Homo sapiens: one gene and its partners. The protein of the gene in region 6 purifies or fractionates together with the protein of the main gene of each other region. This does not show direct contact. Each region holds a gene or a part of one and is shown on either strand. Other genes may lie near its edges. The genes, in order: TTF2, PC, METAP1, NEK4, FDXR, ZNG1A and PTPMT1.

The links.
Region 1: the proteins of ZNG1A (region 6) and TTF2 purify together in Homo sapiens (affinity purification with mass spectrometry; 2 studies listed by BioGRID and IntAct, with this or other methods). This does not show direct contact.
Region 2: the proteins of ZNG1A (region 6) and PC purify together in Homo sapiens (affinity purification with mass spectrometry; 3 studies listed by BioGRID and IntAct, with this or other methods). This does not show direct contact.
Region 3: the proteins of ZNG1A (region 6) and METAP1 purify together in Homo sapiens (affinity purification with mass spectrometry; 4 studies listed by BioGRID and IntAct, with this or other methods). This does not show direct contact.
Region 4: the proteins of ZNG1A (region 6) and NEK4 purify together in Homo sapiens (affinity purification with mass spectrometry; 3 studies listed by BioGRID and IntAct, with this or other methods). This does not show direct contact.
Region 5: the proteins of ZNG1A (region 6) and FDXR purify together in Homo sapiens (affinity purification with mass spectrometry; 3 studies listed by BioGRID and IntAct, with this or other methods). This does not show direct contact.
Region 7: the proteins of ZNG1A (region 6) and PTPMT1 purify together in Homo sapiens (affinity purification with mass spectrometry; 3 studies listed by BioGRID and IntAct, with this or other methods). This does not show direct contact.

Annotation. Positions count from the first base shown.
Region 1 is NC_000001.11:117,063,326-117,066,825, reverse strand, and holds part of TTF2 (transcription termination factor 2), read right to left. Parts: intron 1-3,500. UniProt on the Homo sapiens protein: DsDNA-dependent ATPase which acts as a transcription termination factor by coupling ATP hydrolysis with removal of RNA polymerase II from the DNA template. May contribute to mitotic transcription repression. May also be involved in pre-mRNA splicing.
Region 2 is NC_000011.10:66,951,884-66,955,383, reverse strand, and holds part of PC (pyruvate carboxylase, mitochondrial precursor), read left to right. Parts: intron 1-947; 5' UTR 948-1,135; intron 1,136-2,915; 5' UTR 2,916-2,954; intron 2,955-3,500. UniProt on the Homo sapiens protein: Pyruvate carboxylase catalyzes a 2-step reaction, involving the ATP-dependent carboxylation of the covalently attached biotin in the first step and the transfer of the carboxyl group to pyruvate in the second.
Region 3 is NC_000004.12:99,037,221-99,040,720, forward strand, and holds part of METAP1 (methionine aminopeptidase 1), read left to right. Parts: exon of another isoform or gene 1-721; intron 722-2,153; coding exon 2,154-2,245; intron 2,246-3,500. UniProt on the Homo sapiens protein: Cotranslationally removes the N-terminal methionine from nascent proteins. The N-terminal methionine is often cleaved when the second residue in the primary sequence is small and uncharged (Met-Ala-, Cys, Gly, Pro, Ser, Thr, or Val).
Region 4 is NC_000003.12:52,768,141-52,772,143, reverse strand, and holds the start of NEK4 (serine/threonine-protein kinase Nek4), read left to right. Parts: upstream 1-1,203; 5' UTR 1,204-1,397; coding exon 1,398-1,490; intron 1,491-3,539; coding exon 3,540-3,806; intron 3,807-4,003. UniProt on the Homo sapiens protein: Protein kinase that seems to act exclusively upon threonine residues. Required for normal entry into proliferative arrest after a limited number of cell divisions, also called replicative senescence.
Region 5 is NC_000017.11:74,862,995-74,866,494, forward strand, and holds part of FDXR (NADPH:adrenodoxin oxidoreductase, mitochondrial isoform 1 precursor), read right to left. Parts: coding exon 3,452-3,500; intron 3,251-3,451; coding exon 3,137-3,250; intron 2,827-3,136; coding exon 2,725-2,826; intron 1,956-2,724; coding exon of another isoform or gene 1,938-1,955; coding exon 1,830-1,937; intron 1,571-1,829; coding exon 1,486-1,570; intron 1,354-1,485; coding exon 1,154-1,353; intron 1,074-1,153; coding exon 902-1,073; intron 253-901; coding exon 82-252; intron 1-81. UniProt on the Homo sapiens protein: Serves as the first electron transfer protein in all the mitochondrial P450 systems including cholesterol side chain cleavage in all steroidogenic tissues, steroid 11-beta hydroxylation in the adrenal cortex, 25-OH-vitamin D3-24 hydroxylation in the kidney, and sterol C-27 hydroxylation in the liver.
Region 6 is NC_000009.12:123,697-127,056, reverse strand, and holds part of ZNG1A (zinc-regulated GTPase metalloprotein activator 1A), read left to right. Parts: intron 1-3,360. UniProt on the Homo sapiens protein: Zinc chaperone that directly transfers zinc cofactor to target metalloproteins, thereby activating them.
Region 7 is NC_000011.10:47,568,599-47,571,279, forward strand, and holds part of PTPMT1 (phosphatidylglycerophosphatase and protein-tyrosine phosphatase 1), read left to right. Parts: intron 1-1,101; coding exon 1,102-1,293; intron 1,294-2,681. UniProt on the Homo sapiens protein: Lipid phosphatase which dephosphorylates phosphatidylglycerophosphate (PGP) to phosphatidylglycerol (PG).

The DNA of each region.
Region 1 (3,500 bases), on a different chromosome or scaffold from region 6:
GAGGCTGAGACACGAGAATCACCTGAACCTGGGAGGCAGAGGTCGCAGTGAGCTGAGATTGTGCCACTGTACTCCAGCCTGGTTGACAGAGCAAGACTCTGTCTTTTAAAAAAAAAAAAAAAAAAAAAAAGACATGATTAGTCCAAAGCTGTATGTGTTTGCCACACATCCCAATACTCGACCAACATTACCTTTCTTCCTTGTCCTGCTTAACGTAAACACATTACCCAGAAGCCCCACCTTAGCAACCGTTTCCCTACTGAGCACTGACAATGTGCCAAACACCAGACCGAGGCCATCACACACGTTCTCTCTCCAAGTCCTCCAACCCAGGGAAGTTAGGGCCATGTGAGCAATATTCCAGATGAAAAAATGGAGGAAGGAACACGTTTATATGCCCTACCAGGAAATACATCTCATCAGTGCTCTTTCAGCAAGTTTTCATTCTACTTGGACCCAATTCCACTGCTGCTACTTCAATTCAGGCCCATCACCTCTCACTTAAGAGAAAGTTGGTGTGTCTGGAATCAGTTGGACCTGGGTTTAAATCCCAGCAATGCCACTTCATAACCATGGGTCCTCAGATTCCCTTTCTGACCTGTTTCAATGGTAGTTTCTCCATCTTTCTGGTAAACACGGATATTGAAATCTATCACAACAAATTATATGAAGGTAAAAGATAATGAACAGGCTGGGTGCAGTGGCCCACACCTGTAATCCCAGTACTTTGGGAGGCTGAGGTAGGAGGATTGCTTGAGCCCAGGAGATTGAGACCAGGCTGGGTAATACAGTGAGACCGTGTCTCTACAAAAAAAAAAAAAAAAAAAAAAAAAAAAAGGTATATAGTGGGCTTTCAATGGTAGCTATTATTTCAGTGGTCTCTTTGCCCTATTTTCACTTTCTAATCTGTCCTCCATAGTTCTTCTTTTAATGCAAATTGGGTCAAAAATCCTTCAGTGGCTTCCTAACAACTACCACAGTATGTCTGTATGGTAAAGGTCCTCCAGTAGTATGTAAATGGTTTTAAGTATCAGTAGAATATAACTTCATGCAATAAAGGCTTACCAGCCCTACTATACCAGCAGAAAACAATCCAAAAACAAAATTAAAAAAAATTCCATTTACAACAGCACTAAAAAACACAAACACTGAGAAATAAATTTAACAAAAGATGCATAGGAACTCTGTAATGAAAAGTATTAAACAATGCTCAGAGACATTTTTTTTTTGAGACAGAGTCTCGCTCTGTCACCCAAGCTGGAGTGCGGTGGCGCGATCCCGGCTCACTGTAAGCTCTGCCTCCGGGTTCACGCCATTCTCCTGCCTCAGCCTCCTGAGTAGCTGGGACTACAGGCGCCTTCCACCATGCCCGGCTAATTTTTAGTATTTTTAGTAGAGATGGGGTTTCACCTTGTTAGCCATGATGGTCTCGATCTCCTGACCTCGTGATCCGCCCGCCTTGGCCTCCCAAAGTGCTAGGATTGCCGCGCCCAGCTGACATTTTTAAAGTCATAAATAAATGCACTACATTCATGGATTGGAAGCCTCAATATTGACAATTCTCTCCAAATTGATCTATATAGATTCAATGCAATCCCAACAGGGTTTTCTGTGGAAATTTTTAAAAGCTGATTCTACATTTTATATGGAAATGCAAAGATCCTAGAGCAGCCAACGCAATCTTGAAAAAGAATAAAGTCAGAAGACTCACACTATTTTATCTGATTAATTATGTAAAGATAGGCAAATGGATCAATGGAACAGATTAGCAACCCCAGAAATAGACTTACATATATTGGATCAATTGAATTTTTACAAAGACGCCAAGCATTTCAATGGGAAAAGGAAAATCTTCAAAACATGATGCTAAAACAATTGGTAACATATGCAAAAATAAATGAACCTCTACCCTACCTGATATACTACACAAAAGTAATTTAAGATATAGATAATAGACCTATATGAAAAAGCTACTAAAAAAAAAAAGAAGAAGAAAAAAAAAAAACAGGCCAGGTGCAGTAGCTCACACCTGTAATCCTAGCACCTTGGGAGGCCAAGATGTGTAGATTGCCTGAGCTCAGGAGTTCGGGACCAGCCTGGGCAACATGGTGAAACTCCGTTTCTACTAAAATACAAAAAAATTATTGGTGCACACCTGTAGTCCCAGCTACTTGGGACTACTTGGGAGGCTGAGGCATAAGAATTGCTTGAACCCAGGAGATGGTGGTTGCAGTGAGCCAAGATTGTACCACGGCACTCCAGCCTGGAAGACAGAGTGAAACTCTCTCTCTCAAAAACAAACAAACAAACAAACAAAAATAAAACTATAAAGCTTCTAGACAATTCTTGGAAATATTTGTGATATTGGGGTAGGCAAAGATTTCTTGGAGATCAGACAAAAAGCACAAACCATACAAAAATGATGAGCCTCCCGAGTAGCTGAGACTTCAGGAGTGTGCCACCAGGCCCAGCTAATTTTTTTTTGTTTTTTCACTTTTTTTTATTTAGTAGAGATGGGGTTTCACCATGTTGGTTGGCCAGGCTGGTCTCAAACTCCTAATCTCAAGTGATCTGCCCACTTCAGCCTCCCAAAGTGCTGGGATTACAGGCATGAGCCACCATGCCTGGCCTAACTTGTATAGAGAATTTACAAAGAACTCTACCAACTCAGTTTTAAAAAAAGACAAAAATTTTAAAACAGGCAAAGATCTCCAAAGTTATACTTTATGATTCCACTTATGTAACAATTGTGCAATGACAAAATTTTAGAAATGAAAAGCAAATTCCTGATTGCCGGAGTGAAGAGGGCAGAAGGGAGGGAAGGGGGTATGGTTATAGAAAGGGCAACAGAGAGATCCTGTGATGGAACTCTTCAGTACCTTGACTGTAGTGGTAGATACATGACTCGACAGGATAAAATTGTATAGAATATACACACACACATAAATTAGTTCAAGTAAAACTACCTTTACCAATAAAACTGGTGGGTTGTACCAATATTAATATCCTGTTTGTGATATATTTCTAAGCCTTGCAAACGTTACCATTGGGGGAAACTGGATAAAGTCTACAGGGGATAACTCTGTATTATTCCTTACAACTGTATGTGAATCTAAAACTACTTGATAAAAATTTCAATGCAAAAAAAAGGATAAAATATTTAAACAGATAACGTCGAGATTTTCTGATGGCAAATAGGCACACCAAACAAAGTGGTGCATTTATAAATGAAATTCAACTCCACAATAAAAATGAATGAATTACTGATACATATTATATACATTTCACATACTGTTAAGTAAAAGAAGTCAGACACAGAAGAGTACATGCAGTAGGATTTCATTTATATAACGTTCAAGAACAATCAAAACACATCTAAAGAGATAAAAATCAGAACAGTGATTGCTGACAGGGGTGGAGATGGGAGGGGTGAAATTAACTTGAAGGGGACTGATGGCACTTATTGGGGTAATATTTTGACTCGGATCTTGGTTTTATGA
Region 2 (3,500 bases), on a different chromosome or scaffold from region 6:
TGTCCTGCTCCTTGCTTTCACCCGGTCTCACTTCCAGTGCCCCAGGCACTGTGATAGGTACCTGTCCTCCCACCACCACTCATGGGGGCTCTGGGACCAGTGGCAGGGCAGGACCTCAGATTCACTACTCTTATCCCAAGCCACAGTTCCCTGTGTCCCTCTTCCCTCTGTCCTCTCAGTACCTAATAGTGCCAGGAACAAGTAGGTGCCTAATGAGTGTTTTGGGTGAATTAGTTGAAAAGGGGTCAAACTGGGAACCAGTGAGGAGAGAAGGGTGCAAGATGGGGAATACGGAAAGGAGTTACTTTTGGAGGTGGCAGGGATGGCCAGCACCAAGGTCAGTATGGCAGTAAATCTGGCAATCCACATTTCTCACTGGCACCTTCTGCATGGGCTGGAGGCCTCGTTCAGGTCAACGTTTTCTGTGTTTTTTTTTTTTTGGAGACGGAGTCTTGTTTTGTTGCCCAGGCTGCAGTACAGTGGCACCATCTTGGCTCACTGCAGCCTCTGCCTCCCGGATTCAAGTGATTCTCCTGCCTCAGCCTCCTGAGTAGCTGGGATTACAGGCACCAACCCTTTGCCTGGCTAATTTTTGTATCTTTAGTAGAGATGGGGTTTCACTATGTTGGGCAGGCTGGTCTCGAACTCCTGACTTCAGGTGATCACCTGCCTTGGCCTCCCAAAGTGCTGGGATTACAGGCGTGAGCCACTGCACCCGGCCTCTGGTCAACATTTTCATTGAGGATGAGCATGGCCTTCTCTTTGGCTGCCTCCCAATATCGTCCTGCCCCCATCTGAATGGGCCCCGTTTCTTGTATCCTGAAAGTTCCTGCTTTGGGGCAGGTTTCTCACCCAGAGGCCTCCTTCACAGCAGCAGGGCATTTTGCCTGCTCACTCTGAAACCTCACCTGGGCCTGACTGACCGTGCCTTCCTCTCTTTCTCTTAGCTGCCTTCTAGTCTCACCTGTGGACACTTTGCCAAAGGAGTCGGGCCTGACGGTGGAAGATGGGAAATGGCCAAAAGAATAAACCATTTCCTCTTACTTACCGAATGAAAAGCTTGCTTCATCTTGGCGTTCAAGACTCTCTAATATGATTCCACCTGTTGGGCTCTTTCTTCCATTTGCCTCCGCAGGTACCCTCTTCTGTGTCAGCCCCCATAGTGAGATTAGTCACTGTTACCCCAAACTCACTTCTCACGGTCCCCCCTCTGCTCTTGTTCTTGTTGACTTTGTTTTCTGCAGGGCCTTGCTTCTTATCTTGTCCTGTCAAAATTAAATTATTCTTCGAGACACAGGACTTTATTAAGGCTTGCCAAATCTATTCAGTTGGACTGGGCTCTCTTTTCATAACGATGATGATAAGTAATGATTTATTGTTATTAATAATAAAAGTCAACTACTGTGTGGTGGTGACGGCCTTGCTAAGCCCCTTACATACACATAATGTGATTATCACAACAATCCTATTACGAAGGTCCTATTAGATCCATCTCTTACAAATGACGGACTCTCATAGGTGAAACTCAGAGAGGTGAAATAACGCCCAGAGTAACACAGCCAGGCAGGCTAGGTGGCTCACTGCTGGAGTCCCTCTCACGTGCCATCCCATTTTTGCTTCTTTTAACCAGCCCCTAACAACTTGCTTTTTGGCACTTTGTGGGCAGGGCCTGAGTGTACATACAGTTCCTTGTGCAAGGCATGTGCTCAATAAATATTTTATTGACTTGAGTGCCCCAGACATTGAATTTCAGCCTTGACGTTATCTGTCAAGGCAGCTGGTTTTCTCTGAACAGGGATTTGAGCTTGCTGGCCTGTTTTTCCATTTTGCTGTTCATTGACTAGTGGCTAGGGTAGGTGTGGCTTTTTCGGAAATAAGCAGTCAATAAAACTCCGAAAAGTGATTACACAATACCAACTGTGGGCTCCCATGGGCATAAACACGAGGTGGGCTCTTACTTATGGCAGAGAGGGGTCTCTGCAGGAAAGGATTTGAGGAAATAGCCAGGAAATAGAGTACACATCTCAGGTCACGTAAGACAGCTCCTTATTAGTTTCAAGTTGTGGAGTGAGAGAAGAACCAGACTCCCAGTATTCAGAGGGAGCTCCTGAAGGATTAGAGACAGCTCTGCGGAGATGCAGAGAAAGCGGGCCTGAGGCTGGACGGAGTGGGCAGGAAGAGAAAGCACTTCAGATAAAACGAACTGTTTCTAGAACTTCTTGTTCATGTGTAGTGGGTGGCAGAAAAGGGTTTTACTTAAGCGCTTCCCACCTAGCCTGTCGGTTAACGTCCCAGTGTGTCCTCTGTGCCAGGCATGGTGCCACTGCTGTGCGTGTGCTGCCTCATTGGGTATTCCCTAGTACGCTGTGAGATGGGCATTGTTATTATTCCCATTTTACAGATGAGGAAACAGACTTTGAGTGATTACAGAGCGGCTGTCAGAGTAACAAGAGGTGCAGTCCAGGCAGTGGGACAGCACAGCTGGCGCTTCCAGCTCTGTACCCTCCTGGTGCCCTCAGTGGAAGCAAAGAAACAGTTCTTGGCCGGGTGCGGTGGCTCACACCTGTAATCCCAGCACTTTGGGAGGCCGAGGTGGGTGGATCACCTGAGGTCGGGAGTTCGAGACCAGCCTGACCAACATGGAGAAACCCCCATCTCTACTAAAAATACCAAATTAGCTGGGCGTGGTGGCACATGCCTGTAATCCCAACTACCTCAGGAGGCTGAGGCAGGAGAATCGCTTGAATCCGGGAAGCAGAGGTTGCAGTGAGCCGGGATTGCGCCATTGCACTCCAGCCCGGGTAACAAGACTGAAAAAGTTCTCTGGGTTCTAAAATCGGTGTTCTTGCCACTCCTGTTTTCTCTGGGAAGTTCCTGGAGCAATGAGGGTAATGCTGTTTTTTCTTTTGCTTTAGATAGTGTCTGCCTTCTGGAGAGCTGACCAAACACTAAGGGTAAGTCCTGTGCCTGAATCCAGGCTGGCGGGATGCATGGGGGTCTTCACCAGGAGCAGCTGTGGATGCCAGCAGTTTGGCATGTCAGGTCTTAAGCTCAATCAATAAAAAAAGGCTGCGCTCTGATTTGTGGATAATATCCGTTTAAGCAGTCTTGTCTGTTTCCAGTTGCTCCTGATTTTTACAGGAAAGTGACATCTGGCTCCCTGCTGGCCCCATTTGGCAGCTGGCCAGCCTCAGCAGAAGGCCCTGGTTCTGGAAGGGTATGGTCAGCTTGGGAAGCTGGGCAGGAAGAATCCCTGGGGCTGGGCCGTCTCTGAGAAGACCCCTTGAGTCAGCATGGAGAGCAGGCAGCTGTGGTGTGAGGTGGTTCTGCCAGCTGGTTGTAAAGTCACTTGACACGGGTTTCCAGAGGGTGACGCTCAACCTTTGCCAGTCACGGTAACAACGGGGAAAAAGGGACCTGCCCTTCTTCCCCTGCACATTTTACAGGCATGTGCCACCACACCTGGCTAAGTTTTTTTTTTTCTTTTTTTTTTTTGAGAC
Region 3 (3,500 bases), on a different chromosome or scaffold from region 6:
CCTTTTGATGTATGTTTTTAAAACTGTTTTTTACCAATTGACCGTTTGTTTTGTCATTACATTTATTACAGATTTTGAGTATCCTAACATAGTAAAATTTATCAGTGTTTTATTTTACAGTGTGTATGGCTCTATGACCTAGAAAGACCTTTTTGGTGCAGAAGTTATAAAAAAATATTCCTATGTTTTCTTCTAGCATTTTTATGGTTTCAGTCTTTTTTATGTATGATAAAAATCATTTGTATATCTGAAACTTACTTGGCATAAGGAGTTAAATAGGGATGCAACTTAATTTTTTTTCTCAGAAGGATACCTGGTTATTATATCACCAGTTATTTAAAAAATCAGCCTTTCCTTATTGATTTGAAGTGCAACCTATATTGTTGTATTATGTTCTCACATGTCTTTAGGTCTATTTCTGGATTCTATTCTGTTTTATTAACCCATTTGTCTAATCATGTACCACTGCCAAACTTTTAATTATCATAGCTATATAATGTTTAATATTTGGTAGGCCTTGTTGCCCCTACCTTTCCTCTTTTTCAGAATTTTCCTGGCTATTCTTGCATGTTTGTTTTTCCATGTGAAATTTAGAATCAGCTTGTCTGGTTCTCAAAATTATCCTGTTGACATTTTTTTATTGGGATAGTATTAAATTTATAGATTAATTTTGGAAGAATTGACATCTTTACAATATTGAGTCTTCCTGTCCAGGAACAGGGTATGTTTTTAAAGTTTTATTTGACTCCTTTTATGTCTTTCAGTGGTGTTTTCAGATTTTCTTCATGTAGGGATTTTATTGTTAAATTTATTCCTGGGTACTTCATCTTTTTAGTTGTTTTTGTACATAATAGCTTCTGTATTTTTTAGCTGATTATTTGTATGTGGGAAAGTTATTGATTTTGATAAATTTATCTTAAACAATATGCCAACTTGCTGAATTTGTATTTATGGTCATTTACCAGGTGATTCTTCTGTTCTAGAGATACATAATCACATCTGAAATTGATAAGAATTTTGTCCTTTCTTTTCTAGTTTTATATGTTTTATTTCTTTCTCTTGTTTAATTGCATCTGCTAGTATTGCCAGGACAGTGTTAAATAATAGTGCCGATAGTGGGCATTCTGTAATGTTGGTTCTCAGTTTGAGATTTATATTTATCATGTCAAGGTGGTAGCTGGCCATGTTATCAGAATTAACTTTCCTTCTAGATGATTATTTACTTTTACTTTATTTATGAATGATGAATTGGATGAATAGATTTGTCAGTATTGAACTATCCTTGCCTTCTGGTATGAATCTCACTTGCATCCTGATGTATTAAGTTTTTTTGGATTCTGTTTGTTAATATTTTTATTTGGAATTTTTCCATTAGTACTTGTAAATAAGATTAGTTGACATTATTTTTGTTAGATTTTGAGTTAATTGCTATCCTGGCTTTATTACTTTTCATGTATGTAAAACTTGAAGCTAACAAATTTTATTAGTGAAGATTTTTAGGGCAATATTTTTAAAACTTTTTTGAGTATGACTCAGAAATGGCTTTTATAACGTGATCTTTGTATGTGTATATAAATAAAGATTTCATGGCAGCACTTATTCCTACTCCGTATAATACGAGTATAATACTTTGTTATGCCATTTTAATATTTTCTGTCCCATTTATTTACTTTTAAAAAATGTTAAGTGTAGCCTAATAAAAGGTCACAAACTGGAGATTGAAAAACACTTAACTTTGGTTCCTGTTTCAGAAAATAGTGTAATTAATTCATCAGTTGTTGATGTATAATTGCTTCATGAGATGATTATGAAAGTAATTTGTAAATTCTGTGGTACTTTTCAAATGTATATCATTTACTGAGTCTGATTATCACACGGCCTGGCATATAATAAGTACTCTATAAGTATTGGCTGATTTCTAATAGGTCTGAAAATTTATCTTTTAGAATTTTTTCTTCAGTTGGTTTAGCGAGTTTCCCTTTGATGTTGAAAATGTTTTTTTTTAAAAATCTAACCTAGACCATCCCAAATCATGAATTACTGTTGTGTGAAACAGTGAGACTACTGTTTTTATGCCACAGGTTTATAATTATGCAAATAAATACTACATCTTTGCATTCATTTTGGTTTTACTTACCGAATTTTCATTCCAGGAATGTCTGAATCTGAACAGGCTCTTAAAGGTACTTCTCAGATTAAATTACTCTCATCTGAAGATATAGAAGGGATGCGACTTGTATGTAGGGTAAGAGTGATTTTTTCTCCATGGGGTAGGAAATGTTTAAGCAGTACTTAGACATGAAGTCAGTGGTTTGCTGATTTATAAAGATAGCAAATGTTATATTGTTAGACTGACCAGCCATGCTTTTTTTTTTTTTTTAACTTTTTTTTGAGACAGAGTTTCACTCTGTCGCCCAGGCTGGAGTGCAGTGGCGTGATCTCTGCTCACTGCAACCTCCACCTTCTGTTTTCAAGCGATTCTTCTGCCTCAGCCTCCTGAGTAGCTGGGATTACAGGTGCCCACCACCACACCTGGCTAATTTTTGTATTTTTAGTAGAGATGGGGTTTCACCATGTTGCCCAGGCTGGTCTCGAACTCCTGACCTCGTGATCTGCCCACCTTGGCCTCCCAAAATGCTGGGATTACAGGCGTGAGCCACCACACCTGGCCTTTTTTTGTATTTTTAGTAGATACAGGGTTTCACCATGTTGGCCAGGCTGGTCTCTAACTCCTGACGTAAGGTGATCTGCCCGCCTCGGCCTCCCACAGTGCTGGGATTACAGGCGTGAGCCATTGTGCCCGGTTTAGCCATGCTTTTCATTAAACTATTGTTAGTATATAATTTTAGTCAACAGTTTTCTTCTTAAAAGCCTATTTCAGAATTAATCTGGTGGATAGTCTATATTTAGATGACAATCCTTTTCATTTATTTAATGATATTTAAAAACATTTTGTCATTTTATTTTCACAAGTCATCATAACATAGGACAGAGTTTAAGGCTCAGAGGGTTATGCTGTAGGCCTTTTTGTGAAATACCTATGATGAGTGGTAGTAGTGGTTGGTACTCATTAGGTGAAATCACATATTTATTCTGAAGGAAAATATAATACATTGATATTATTCATTTAAGTAAGATTCTTAAGGTTTCTATTCAGTGCTTTAAAAGTGATTTGATTCTAATTTTGTTTGATATCCTGGAGAACTTTCTCTTCCTATGACTTGCTGTGATTCTTTGAGGAATTCATTCATCTATTTTTTTTTTTTTGAGACAGGGTCTTGCTATCACTCAGGCTAGAGTACAGTGGCACAATCATAGATCATATAGATCATAGCTCATAGCTTACTGTAACTCCAAACTCCTGGGCTCAAGCTATCCTTCCACCTCAGCCTCCTGAGTAGCTGGGATCACAGGCATGTGCCACTACACCTGACTACTTTTTTTTTTTTTTTTTTTAAGAGACAGGATCTCACTATGTTGCCCAGGCTCATCTGTTCTTT
Region 4 (4,003 bases), on a different chromosome or scaffold from region 6:
GAATTAGCATATGATCCAGCAATTTCACTTCTGAGTGTATACCCAAATGAATTAAAAAGAAAGCAGGGACTCAAACAGATATTCGTACACCCATGTTCATAGCCGAATTATTCACAATAGCCAAAAGATGGAAGCTATCCGTGTCCATGACTGCATGAATGGATAAACAAATTGTGGTGTATACATATAATGGAATATTATTTGGCCATAAAAAGGAAAGAGGCCAGGCACGATGGCGCACACCTGTAATAACGGCATTTTGGGAGGCCAACGTGGGTGAATTGCTTGAGCCGAGGAGTTCAAGACCGGTCTGGGGAACATAGTGACACCCTGTCTCTGAAAAAAAATAAAATAGGATTAGCCAGGCATGGACGTGTGTGCCTGTAGTTGGGAGGATGGCTTGAGCCCAGGAAGTCTAGGCAGCAGTGAGCACCATTGCACCACTGCACTCCAAGCTGGGTGGCAGGGCGAGACCCTGTCTCAAAAAAAAAAAAAAAAAAAAAAAAGGAAAAAAAGGAAGCGCTCTGGGAAAGGGAGGCTTTGGCTGGAACAAATGGTGAATTCTTTTGGCACCCCTGAGCTTTCTTGGGCAGGCATTTTAAAGGGGCCTAGGCCCACCTAGAGATCCGCCCTTAGGCTGTTAACTTAGCATGATGCCATGTTAGAGTTTAGTCAAGTCTCTTAGTGCAGTGGTTAGGGTAGTCGTTAAATGCTGAGGAGTCTTTGTAGTTCTCAATTAGCAGGCGAGTTTTTAGGGATGAAAGGTACTGATAATTTACTTTGAATGTATCAAAAAATAGGATGGATTGCTGGATGCAGAGACGGCATGTGATAAAGCGGATACAGCAAATGTTACTGGTAGAGAGTCTGTCACCCAGTCATTAGAACATGAGCTCCAGGAGGGCAGGGACTTTGTTGGCCTGGCACATAGGCGGTCAACAAATATTTGCAGAATGAACGAACAATACTTGTAACGGCCTTAGGACAAACAAGTGCACAAAAAGAGGAAGCTTTCCCTGACTCTGTTGTGGCGGGGATCCGGACGGTGGAACGGACGCACAGAAAGTGCGCGGAGCCTGGCGGAGTCGCTCTGGCCTCCTGGAGCCTCTGCTCTATGGCGGGTCCTCCCGGGGCTGCGGAACCTCTCTGGCCGCTCGTGGCGTCCGCTCTATGGCCGTCCTTTGGGGACGCAGGAGCATGCGCAGAACTGCTCCCGGCCCGGATCGCTATGGCAGCGGCGTCGTCGCGGGCCGGGCCCCAGCAATCCCGCCCGGGCCCGGCTGCCTCAACAGCCGCCCCCACTGCCCCCTCTCGGGCATGAACCGAGCTTCTTGTTGCCGCCCGCTGCCCTACCCGCCGCTGCCGCCGCATCCCGACTCTGGGCCAGCGCTGGGAACATGCCCCTGGCCGCCTACTGCTACCTGCGGGTCGTGGGCAAGGGGAGCTATGGAGAGGTGACGCTTGTGAAGCACCGGCGGGACGGCAAGCAGGTCTGCAGGGGTGGGGCCCGGCAAGGGGCGGGGGCGGGCAGAAGTGCGCCGAGGGCGCCGACCGGTAGATTAGGTCGGGGGTGGTCGCAAGAGGCTCATCTCGGATGGCGTTTCCTCAGGGAAATGGTCCCAGACCAAGACGAGGCCTGGCCTCCCTGTAATATGCGCCCAGAACTACTTCTACTTCTTTGTTGTGTTAAATTTTTTTCCTTTTAATTTTCATTTTCTTTAATTACAATTCTAAGTTTTATGTAAAAATTTTCAGTCTCTGCCTATCTACTTCTTTGTTGTACTAATTGGCATGCGTGATCTACACACCTTTCTCCCAACCCCGATACTCTCATGAGAGCCGGTATCATGCATTCCCAGGACTTAATACAGCGCCTAGCAAGCATTATTCCTTGAATGAAGGGCCCCAAACGTCTCTACTGTAGACTGCTGGATTCACTTAAAACTCGACTCATTTTCTTCCCGCCAAACCTTCTCTCATGTCTTCCGTTTCAGTGAATAGTGACACCAACCCACCAGTTGCCCAAGCCGGACACCTGGAGTCATTTTTAAGCCTCCCCACGCACCCCAACACTGATTATATTCATCTATCACTAAGACAATAGGCCTCCTCTCATCTCTACTGCTACCACCCCAATCCAGGACACCCTGTTGTCTCTAGCAAAGCTATGGCCACGGTTTCCCAACTGGTCGCCGCCACTTGACTTGCTTTTCTCCAATCCATCACTTTCACTGCAGCCTCAGTGATCTTTCTCAAATTTAAATCTGATGTTGTCACTCCTCTGTTTAAAACACTTTATCCCATTACTCTCAGGATAATGAACCAATTATTCAATGTGGTTTATTAATAGGGTGACAATATAATGTACAAACTGGGACAATTTTGAAACTGAAAGGCATTATTAATAGTTACACCAGGACAGTAGGACTGCTCCAGGCAAGCTGAGAAGAGATGTTCCCCCTAAATATAGGGCCCAATTGCCTGTTCTTCCTTGTCTCTGGTGCTAGTTGCTTTGCGTGGAACACAAGCTCATGCATAAGAAATTTATTCAGTAGGCATTGGGGGAATCATTGGATTTTGGGGCTGATGATAGGGAACTAGCAATAGCTAGTTATTTGAGCTTTAGTTTACACTTCACAAAACACATTTATCTATGTGTTGAAGAAATGAATTGTATGGTCTTTGAAATGATTGAGGGCAATGTATTAGGTATTAGAGGCTATTGATTTCTTTTAAGTGTGAATAATTTTGTATGCTGAAGATCAGTGACTATTAAACTTATGGGGCCATGGATCCCTTTGAGTATCTAACGTAATCCACAGACTATTCTGTCTGCAAATGTATAGTCAAGCTATATTTTATTCACCTTTTTGGGAGAGCTTAGATATTAAGGAATTTCTTTTTTTATTTTTTATTTTTTTTGAGACAGAGTCTTGCTCTGCCTCCCAGGCTGGAGTGCAGTGGTGCGATGTTGGCTCACTGCTGCAACTACTGCCTCCCAGGTTCAAGCAATTCTCCTGTGTCAGCCTCCCGAGTTGCTGGGACTATGGGTACACACCACCACGCCGGGCTAATTTTTGTATTTTTAGTAGAGACAGGTTTCACCATGTTGACCAGGCTGGTCTTGAACTCCTGACCTCAGGTGATCCACCCGCCTCACCCTCCCAAAGTGCTGGGATTACAGGTGTGAGCCACTGTGTATGGCCAGATATTAAGGAATTGCTAACACAGGTTTTATAATTGATCCAATGGTATGTTATCTTGAACTCACTTTTTTTAGTCATTAATGAAATTGTGAAATGCAGATGGGAAAGGTAATTTTTGTGGCCCTACACTGCTATAAATCTAACTTATAAGAAGTATCAATAATAGCAAATATTTTCCCCGATTTTGTGCTTGGTGAAAAACAAAATGAATAGGTTATCTGACAGGCTCCACAAGGTTGGTTTTGAGGGTATTCTTGAGAGCCCTTAGATAACTCTGAGGCCACAAATCTTACGTTTATTTGCACATTGTAAAAATACATGGTTTGTTTTTAGTATGTCATCAAAAAACTGAACCTCCGAAATGCCTCTAGCCGAGAGCGGCGAGCTGCTGAACAGGAAGCCCAGCTCTTGTCTCAGTTGAAGCATCCCAACATTGTCACCTACAAGGAGTCATGGGAAGGAGGAGATGGTCTGCTCTACATTGTCATGGGCTTCTGTGAAGGAGGTGATTTGTACCGAAAGCTCAAGGAGCAGAAAGGGCAGCTTCTGCCTGAGAATCAGGTGGTAGAGTGGTTTGTACAGATCGCCATGGCTTTGCAGGTACTGTGTAGACTAATAGCATCCTAGCTTGTTCCCAGATGGCAAGAAGATGGCAGGTGTATTTTAGGAAAATTTTTCTTCAGATACTTACATATAGAAATGTATTTTTTGGAAAATTCATTTGTGAAGTTGACCCAGTCACTCTTTCTGTAGCATTGGAACTTTTCTAAGTAAGTGATACCTATATTAAAATAGAC
Region 5 (3,500 bases), on a different chromosome or scaffold from region 6:
GAACAGCCCCCTCCCAAAGAGTGAGGCCCAGAGAAGGACCACCCACCCCACCTCCCAGGACCTCAGCATCGGGGCCCAGACCTCGGCTGCTGAGCAGGGCCTGGATGGCTGCGTAGCCAGGCCTGGGGCCAGAGGGGAGCAACCCAGCCTTCAGGTCCTGCAGCAGCATCTGGCCGGTGAGGAAGCTGTCAGTCATGGTTGTGGCTATGACACCTGTAGGTCCTCTCTTCACCCAGCCGCTGCAGTAGAGGCCTGAGAGGGGGTAACAAAAGGGGAAGGGAGGGAGGTGGCTGGATACCACCCTGGCCATCCTGTGCCCACAATCTACACCCACGTGCACGCACACAGACACCCCACGCCTCTTGGCAGACTGTCGGCTGAGCCTGCTGTGGCCGCTGGTCCACTGCCCTGGATTCTTCTCTCCCTGTTTTTACCAGGCCGACCCCCTTACACCTCAGTTTCCCTGTAGATGAGGGGATCCCTAAGCTTAGGAGCTGAGGCTTGCTCCCCTGCAGTTTCAGTAGGCCCTTGGTAAATGTTTACCAAGTGAATTAATCACTAGATAGGTATGTGGGCACTTAGTAAAACTGGAAGCTCCCTGAGGACACAGGCTGCCTTATTAATCTCCAATCCCAGCACTAAGCACAGGGCCTAACCCAGAAAAGACCTCAGTAAACGTTTGTTGAATGACTTAATGACCCGACGTATGTCACATATGTCCTAGCCAGACTGGAACTTCTCTCAGGGCCAAGAGGAGGGCGGCACTGGGTCCTAGAGAGGGCCTGCCCTGCAGAAGCTTCTCAGTACATGTTGCTAGATGAATGAACGCATGGCCCCAGGAGATACCAGCTTCTCGGCCTCTCACCATAATTCAGCACCCAGCCTCCTCACACCCTCTCACCTGGCACATCCATAACCCGGCCCTCCACATTGGGGATGACCCCAAGCTTGGAGTCAAAGGGCACGCTTGGGTCGACAGGGCGGCTCTTATACCCAATGCTGCTGAGCACCAGCCCACAAGGGAGGTCTTCCATGTCTCCCGTGGGCACTGCACGGGTGGCCTCATCGACACCCTGTTGGGGAGAGTGTGGGCAACACCAGGCGGGTGGCAGAGGCCTGGGAAGGGGGTGTCTTTGGGAAACATGAGACTCACCTCCAGTCTAGTGACTGCTAGGCGGACACCTGCTGCCCGCCGCCCATCTGGTGAGGGCAGCACCTGCTGGGGGCTTCGGAAAAAGCGGAGGCCCCAGGCACGGGAGGCCGATGCCTGGCGGGCAGCTTCCGCCGGCCCTGGCTTCTCTGTGGCCGTTCGAAGCAGCAGTTCCGTCAGCCGCTTCCTCGGGCGGGGGACCTCTGTCAGCAACGTAGAATGTCTCCAGGCTGTCCCTGGGCCCCGGCCCTCTCCCTGCATGCCCTTCCCCAATCCCTCTCTGACCTAGGCCACCCTCTCCCTAGTAGTTGGGGGGCCAGGCCAGGGCCCCTCACCCTTGATCTTGTCCTGGAGACCCAAGAAATCCACAGGATCCAAAATGGGCCGGGCTCCCGGTAACTGAATCATCTCCCGAAGCTCCTTGAAGGTGGGAGCAGGGAATGGGGGAGGAGGTCAGGCCCAGAACACAGTCCACCTGAGCCCACCCCAGGGTCCAGCCCAGGCAGGAGAGACCACCACCCGCCTCCTCCCCAAAGGCACAGGGCCCCCGGGGCCCTGACTGCTCCCCTTCTTCCATCCCAGGCAGCAGCTACTCCCAGGGGCTCTGCCCCACCCCAACCCCTTAAGGAGAGGCCCCCTCCACCTGGAACCCTGGCTCCTCCCACTCTGGCCCCAGCACCTTAATGGTGAAGGCCACTTGCAGGGGTCCACGCCGGCCCACTAGCCACACTGTCTTCACTCGACTCTGCCTCAGTACACCCAGGGCTGCCTTCGTGATGTCCGTTCTCTGGCACAAAAGGAGGGCCTTGGAGTCATCAGACACTGACCGAGGAAAGGGGACTCTCCATTTGGTCATGTCCCCACCGTGGGCCTGGAGAAGGCTGGCGGCTCAAAATTGCGCCACTGCTCCCCCCTGGTGGCCAGATGGAGCATTGCTGCCAACTCTGCAAATGGCTCCAACTAATAGCACACCAGGCCCACACTTTCATTCAACAAGTATGTAGTGGGCCTCTACCATGTGCTCACCCCCATGCAAAGAGCTTGGAGGGGCGGGGTGGTCAATGGTGAGGAAAAGAGACAAGGAGCAGGCCCTCTCAGAGCTTGTGATCTGCTGGGGAGAGAAATACTCATCAAATACTCATCAATGTGTGTAAAATTGCTGTGGCGATGATATGCGGTGAAACAGAAGTAGACAGGTCTATGGGAGGAGGCACGATGGGGGAGTGGACCAATTCAGGGAAGTCCTGGAGGAAGGGACAACCGAGCCAAGATCTCAAAGATGAACTTTAACTGTTAACTGGTGGGAGGTGAGTGGGGATGATCCAAGCAGGGGATGTGGCTTACTGAAGAGTAAGAGAAAAACGCCACTTAGCTGGAGTGCAGAAAGTGAAGGGAAAATGGTAGAAGAGGAAGCTCATGGCACTGCCCTTCAGAGAGCCTCTGCCTGGGCACCACGGGGAAACAGAGGCACTGAGCCCAGCTTGGAGAGGTAAGGCCTGAACCCTGCAGACAAGGGCACTCTCTCCTCAGGGTGACCCCACCTCCAACCCCGCCAGCCCTGACCTACCACTCACCTCCAGGTGCTCAGGTGGGGTCAGTAGGATGCGGGCCACGTCCAGAGCCACGTTCCCCTGCCCCAGAATCACGGCTGTGTCACAGCTCAGGTCTGGCTCCAGCTGGAGGGGAAAGGTCTTGATAGGGTCCCCCAGCCTCGCTCCACTCAGTTCATCTCAGTCTGCAGGTGCCTCATGCCTGGTCCCCACTGTGCCCTGGGGCTTCCCCACACCGGGAAAGTCCACAACTCTGGTCCCTCCTCCCCCACCTGGACCCAGCTCTCCCCCGAGGCCCTCCACAGCTGGCCTCCCGCCTCAGTCAGCACAATGTCACAGCTCGCCACTGGATGGCAGCTCCCTCTTCCCCCAGGTCTGGCATCCAAGGGCTGAGGGGCGGGGAGGAAGAGGCAGCGGGCGTGCTCCCCATACTCACCTCCTGGTTCTCAGGAAGCCCGTTGTACCAGCCCACGAAGGCCCGGGCGGAGCACACACCTGGCAGCTCCTCACCAGGAATTTCCAGGGCCCGATGGTCCTCTGCCCCGTAGCTCTGATGAAAGATGGCAGGCCCGAGACCCACAGCCTTCAGCACCAGCACTGATAGGCCGGGCAGCCCCCCAGGCTCCCAGCGGCCTCCTTCCAGCTTCTCAGCAGCTTGCATCCTGGCCTCACCCCTGCTGCCTTCCACCCCGAGCCACCGGCCTCCTTCTGCAGCCCCTGCCTCCCCAAGCCAGGGCCTAGCTGCACTCACCAGCACCACAGCGTGGTAGGCCTCCTGCAGCTCCGGCACCGTCACGTCC
Region 6 (3,360 bases):
AATTATATCAAGCACTCTGTCAGACCACAGTGGAATAAAACTGGAAATCAACTCCAAAAGGAACCTTCAAAACCATGCCGATACATGGAATAACCTGCTCCTGAATGATCAGTGGGTCAAAGATGAAATCAAGATGGAAATGTAACAATTCCTCAAACTGAACGACAAGAGTGACCCAACCTGTCAGCCTCTGGGACACAGCAGAGGCGGTGCTAAGAGGAAGGTTCACGGCCCTGAGCGCCTCCATCAAAAAGTCGGAAAGAGCACAGACAATCCACGGTCACACCTCAAGGAACTAGAGAAACAAGAACAAACCCAGCAGAAGAAAGGAGATCAGAGCGGAATTAAATGAAATTGAAACAAAACAACAAAAAAAATCCAAAAGATAAATGAAACAAAAAGCTGGTTCTTTGAAAAGATAAATAAAATTGATAGACCGTTAGCAAGATCAGCCAAGAAAAGAGAGAAAATCCAAATAAGCTCAATAAGAAATGAAACGGGAGATATTACAACTGACACCACAGAAATACAAAAGATATTCAAGGCTACCATGAACACCTTTACATGCATAAACTAGAAAACCTAAAATAGATGGAGAAATTCCTGGAAAGATACAACCCTCCTAGCTTAAATCAGGAAGAATTACCCTGAACAGACCAGTAACAAGCAGGGAGATTGAAATGGTAATTAAAAAATTACCAACAAAAAAATGTCCAGGACTAGACGGATTCACAACAGAATTCCACCAGATATTCAAAGAAGACTTGGTACCAGTCTTAAAGACACTATTCCACAAGAGAGAGAAAGAAGGAATCCTCCCTAAATCATTCTATGAAGCCAGTATCACCCTAATACCAAAACCAGGAAAGGACATAACCAAAGAAGAAAACTACAGACCAATATCCTTGAACATAGATGCTAAAATCCTTAAGAAAATTCTAGCTAACTGATTCCAACAACATATCAAAAAGATAATCCACCATGATCAAGGGGTTTCATACCAGGGATGCAGGGATGGTTTAACATACACATGCGCGTAGCCAAAGCAAGACTAAGCAAAAAGAACAAATCTGAAGGCATCACATTACCTGATTTCAAACTTATACTATAAGGCCATAGTCACCAAAACAGCATGGTACGGTTATAAAAATAGTCACATGGACCAATGGAACAGAATAGAGAACCCAGAAATAAATACTTACAGCCAACTGATCTTCAACAAAGCAAACAAAAACATAAAGTGGAAAAAGGATACCCTTTTCAACAAATGGTGCTGGGATAATTGGCTAGCCACATGTAGGAGAATGAAACTGGATCCTCCTCTCTCACTGTATACAAAAATCAACCCAAGATAAATTAAAGACTTAAATCTAAGACCTGAAACTATAAAAATTCTAAAAGATACCATTGGAAAAATCATTCTAGACATTGGCTTAGGCAAGGATTTCATGAACCCAAAAGCAAATGCAATAAAAACAAAGATAAATAGCTGGGACTTAATTAAACTAAAGAACTTTTGCACAGCAAAAGGAACAGTCAGCAGAGTAAACAGACAACCCACAGAGAAGGAGAAAATCTTTCATAATATATACATCTGAAAAAGAACAAATATCCAGAATCTACAATGAACTCCAACAAATCAGCAAGAAAAGCAGTCCCATCAAAAAGTGGGCTAAGGACATGAATAGACAATTCTTAAAAGAAGATATACAAATGGCCAATAAACATATGGAAAAATGCTCAACATCACTAATGATCAGGGAAATGCAAATCAAAACCACAGTGCGATACCACCTTACTTCTGCAAGAATGGCCATAATAAAAAAATCAAAAAAATAGTAGATGTTGGCATGGATGTGGTGAACACGGAACACTTCTACACTGCTGGTGGGAATGTAAACTAGTACAACCACTATGGAAAACTGTGGAGATTCCTTAAAGAACTAAAAGTAGAACTACCATTTGGTCCAGCAATCCCACTACTAGGTATCCACCCAGAGGAAAAGAAGTCATTATACGAAAAAGATACGTGCACACGCATGTTTATAGCAGCACAATTGGCAATTGCAAAAACGTGGAACCAACCCAAAGGCCCATCAATCAATGCGTGGATAAAGTAACTGTGATATATATGCATACAATGGAATACTCCTCAGCCATAAAAAGGAGTGAATTAATGGCATTCGCAGTGACCTGGATAAGATTGGAGACTATTATTCTAAGTGAAAGAACTCAGGAATGGAAAACCAAACATCGCTATGTTCTCACTCATAAGTGGGAGCTAAGCTATGAGGATGCAAAGGCATAAGAATGACACAATGAACTTTGGGGACTCAGGGAGAAAGGGTGGGAAGGGGATGAGGAATAAAAGACAAAAATTGGGTGCAGTGTATACTGCTCAGGTGATGGGTGTACCAAAATCTCACAAATCACCACTAAAGAAGTTAACCAACACCACCTGTTCCCCAGTAACCTATGGAAAGAAAGAAATGTCTCATATGTTTCTGCCTAAATTGGTCTTTAATACTTTAGCGATTCTCTTGAGTTTGGATTATAAAATAGTTTTGGTCTTTTTGTATTTTCTGCTGTAAGCCTGTATGATTATGTAATGGTGAGTAAAATTGCTAGGCCAGATATGCAGTTCTAGGAAGTTATGCAAAGATGTGCTTTAGTATATTATTTTCTACCTTTTTAAATTCATTTTGAGCTTGGCTTTTGAGCCTCTATTTTCCAAGGTGGGGTGTATGTTTTTATAATGTTATGCTTAGCCCTTGTGTATTTTCATCTCTGAGTTTGAAATTTGGGGTTATATTGGCAAAGGGAGGTTTGGGTTTTAATTAGGTGACCTGTTAGAGGAAATGTTAAGCTTCTGTTTCTTTAGGGTAGACAGTGAGAGATTTATCAAGATAAAGAAGAAAAATAAATCCTAAAGTTAATATTCAATACATGATGATGTCCCCCTTACTAAAGCCAAAGAGGGCATTATCCTATCATTCTCATCGCTAAGAACTCTTCTCCTCTTGGCACATGCTTATTCAGTTAAAGATAAGCCAAGCCTTTCTTTTGTATTTTTTTTTAAGAGAACAGATTTACTTTGGTTTTGAGTTTTATTCCTGGCTCTGGGTAGCTTATTTTTTTGACCCTTATTTTCCCCAATTTATAAAATGAAATAGTTATCTTCACTCCCCAGGATTGTTGTGAAGAGTAAGTCAAAAGATAAAATGAGGTGACTCAGGCAAAAGTACCTGGCCCTGTGTAGTGAGTACATTGTATGTGTTACATATATTCTTATTGCTGAGAATCCACGAAAGAATGAATTAAATAATGAGGACCCCTTCATCAGGGTTTTTGAGTGAGTTT
Region 7 (2,681 bases), on a different chromosome or scaffold from region 6:
TTGAGCTTAGGAGTTTGAGGCTGCAAGGAGCCATGATTGCATACCACTGCTCTCTGACCTGGGTGACATAGCAAGATCGTGTCTCTAAAATAAAATATATATATATTTTTGAGATGTTGTTTTGCTCTTGTCTCCCAGGCTGGAGTACAATGGTGCGATCTCTGCTCACTGCAACCTCTCCCTCCAGGGTTAAACAATTCTCCTGCCTCAGCCTCCCTAGTAGCTGGGATCACAGGCATCCACCACCACGCATGGCTAATTTTTGTATTTTTAGTAGAGACAGGGTTTCCCCATGTTAGCCAGGCTGGTCTCAAACTCCTGACCTTAGGTGATCTGCCCGCCTTGGCCTTGCAAACTGTTGGGATTACAGGCGTGAGCCACCATGCCCGGCCAAAATAAAATGTTAAGACGTTTGCAGCTGAATTTTTTGCAGCTAAAATGTATATAGCTAATATCTTGCAGCTAAATATTCAAGTACCCAAAGGGTAGTTTAAGAACACTTTACCTGCTGGTGTGGTGGCTCACACCTGTAATCCCAGCACTTTGGGAGGCTGAGGCAGGCGGATGACCTGAGGTCAGGAGTTCGAGACCAGCCTGGCCAACATGATGAAACCCCGTCTCTACTAAAAATGCAAAAATTAGCCAGGCTTGGTGGCGCGTGCCTGTAGTCCCAGCTACTCGGGAGGCTGAGGCAGGAGAATCGCTTGAAACTGGGAGGTGGAGGTTGTGGTGAGCTGAGATCACGCCACTGTACTACAGCCTGGGCAACAGAGCGAGACTCTGTCTTTAAAAAAAAAAAAAAAAAAAAAAGGAACACTTTAAATCTTGGACATAATTCTAACTCAGCAGCATAGCTGTTGCTTGATGAAAAACCAACCATGTAGGCCAGCCATTTTAAAGACATTTCTGTCCTCACCTGGAATGGGAAAAAAAAGCATTTCTGTAAGAAGTTTCTATTTTAGAAAACAGGCAACAGTGTATTCCCATTGTAGTAAACCCTGAAACTTCCTTGTTGCTTTGCTGCTTCTTGGGAGCCCCTTATCATCCCACCCACATAGTTTTTTTTCATTCTCTTTTTCATACTGGTGGACCTGGTTCCAGGAGTGGAAGAGACTAGGAGTCGAGCAGCTGCGGCTCAGCACAGTAGACATGACTGGGATCCCCACCTTGGACAACCTCCAGAAGGGAGTCCAATTTGCTCTCAAGTACCAGTCGCTGGGCCAGTGTGTTTACGTGCATTGTAAGGCTGGGCGCTCCAGGAGTGCCACTATGGTGGCAGCATACCTGATTCAGGTACCAAAGTTCTTTCTGGGCTGGGCATCGTGGTACACACTTATGATCCCAGCACTTTGGGAGGCTTGAGATGGGAGGATGGCTTGAGCCCAGGAGTTTGAGACCAGCCTGGGCAACATGGCAAAACCGTCTCTACAAAAAATACAACAAGTTAGCTCAGTGTGGTGGTGTGCACCTGTAGTCCCAGCTACTTGGGAGGCTGAGATGGATCACCGGAGCCCAGTAGGTAGAGGCTGCAGTGAGCCGTGATTTGTGCCACTGCACTGCAGCATAGCCAACAGAGTGAAACTGTCTCAAAAAAAAAAAAAAAAAAAAAAAGTCTTTCTGGTCCCATTTATAGCAGATTTCCAGAACTTCAATAGCATGGTCTACTGGTGGGCCTTGTTGGAAGGAGCTGTGTGCTTGATTTCAGGCTGTTGGGAGGTGGTTTGGTATGATGGAAAGCACCTGAGCCTTGTGACAGGGTAACCTGGGGCTCTGCTGCCTGCCAGTGAGGATCAGCAAAAGTGACTTCTGCCTTATGCAACATGTTTTCTCAAACTAAATGTATTATGAAGTTTAAATAAGAAATTACATCAAGTGCTGGCCTATAGCGGGCACTCTAAAAACGGAGTTGCAAAAGCCATTCAACCCCAGCAAAAGGCTAGACACTTGTTCTAATACCATGTCAGGAAACAATATCATAGATAATAGTGCTGATCATTTTCAGCTTTATAGTACTCAAGTTTCTTCAAGTATTCCAGAGTAAAGTTCTGGATATTAGTTTCTGGAAACAGGCTCCAAACTGGATTCTGCCTATTAATGTGTCATAATTGGCAGGTGGGATGCTTTAAAAATATTTAGGAGAAACAAATACCCTGTAGTCCATCATCATTTTGTAACCTAAGTTACAAAATGTCTGGCTCCCACAGAGCATTTTCTAAGTCATGTGAATAGCTAAGTCTGGCCTTGTGTTACTGTGGACTAGTGTGTATATAGTTGAGTAATATTAAAATTTTGGTCATAAGGGCTCTGCTGGAAGCAGGGTCTCAGGAGGGTATTTTGCACCAAGTGAGAATTGAACTAGCAAGTTAGAAATCTGTATTTTCTTGGTTCTGTTGAGTTCTAAACCAATGAGTATCCTTAGGACATGTTAACCCTCCTATTTAAATTATGAGTTACTTGTTTTTCTAGCCATGGTGACAAGTTGCATAAAAACATCTATTGCATACTCGTTCCTAGAAATTCTTGTAACCAAAAGCCCAGCTCGGAGAGGACGTGGAGTAGGCTGAGGCAGTCTTGAACTTAGGATCTCAGCTTCCCATGTGCAACTTCCTTTTTCTAGGATTTGGCAGAGCAAGAATTGGGTAGAAAGACTGACTTTCCACCTGACCTGTTGCATAGTATTG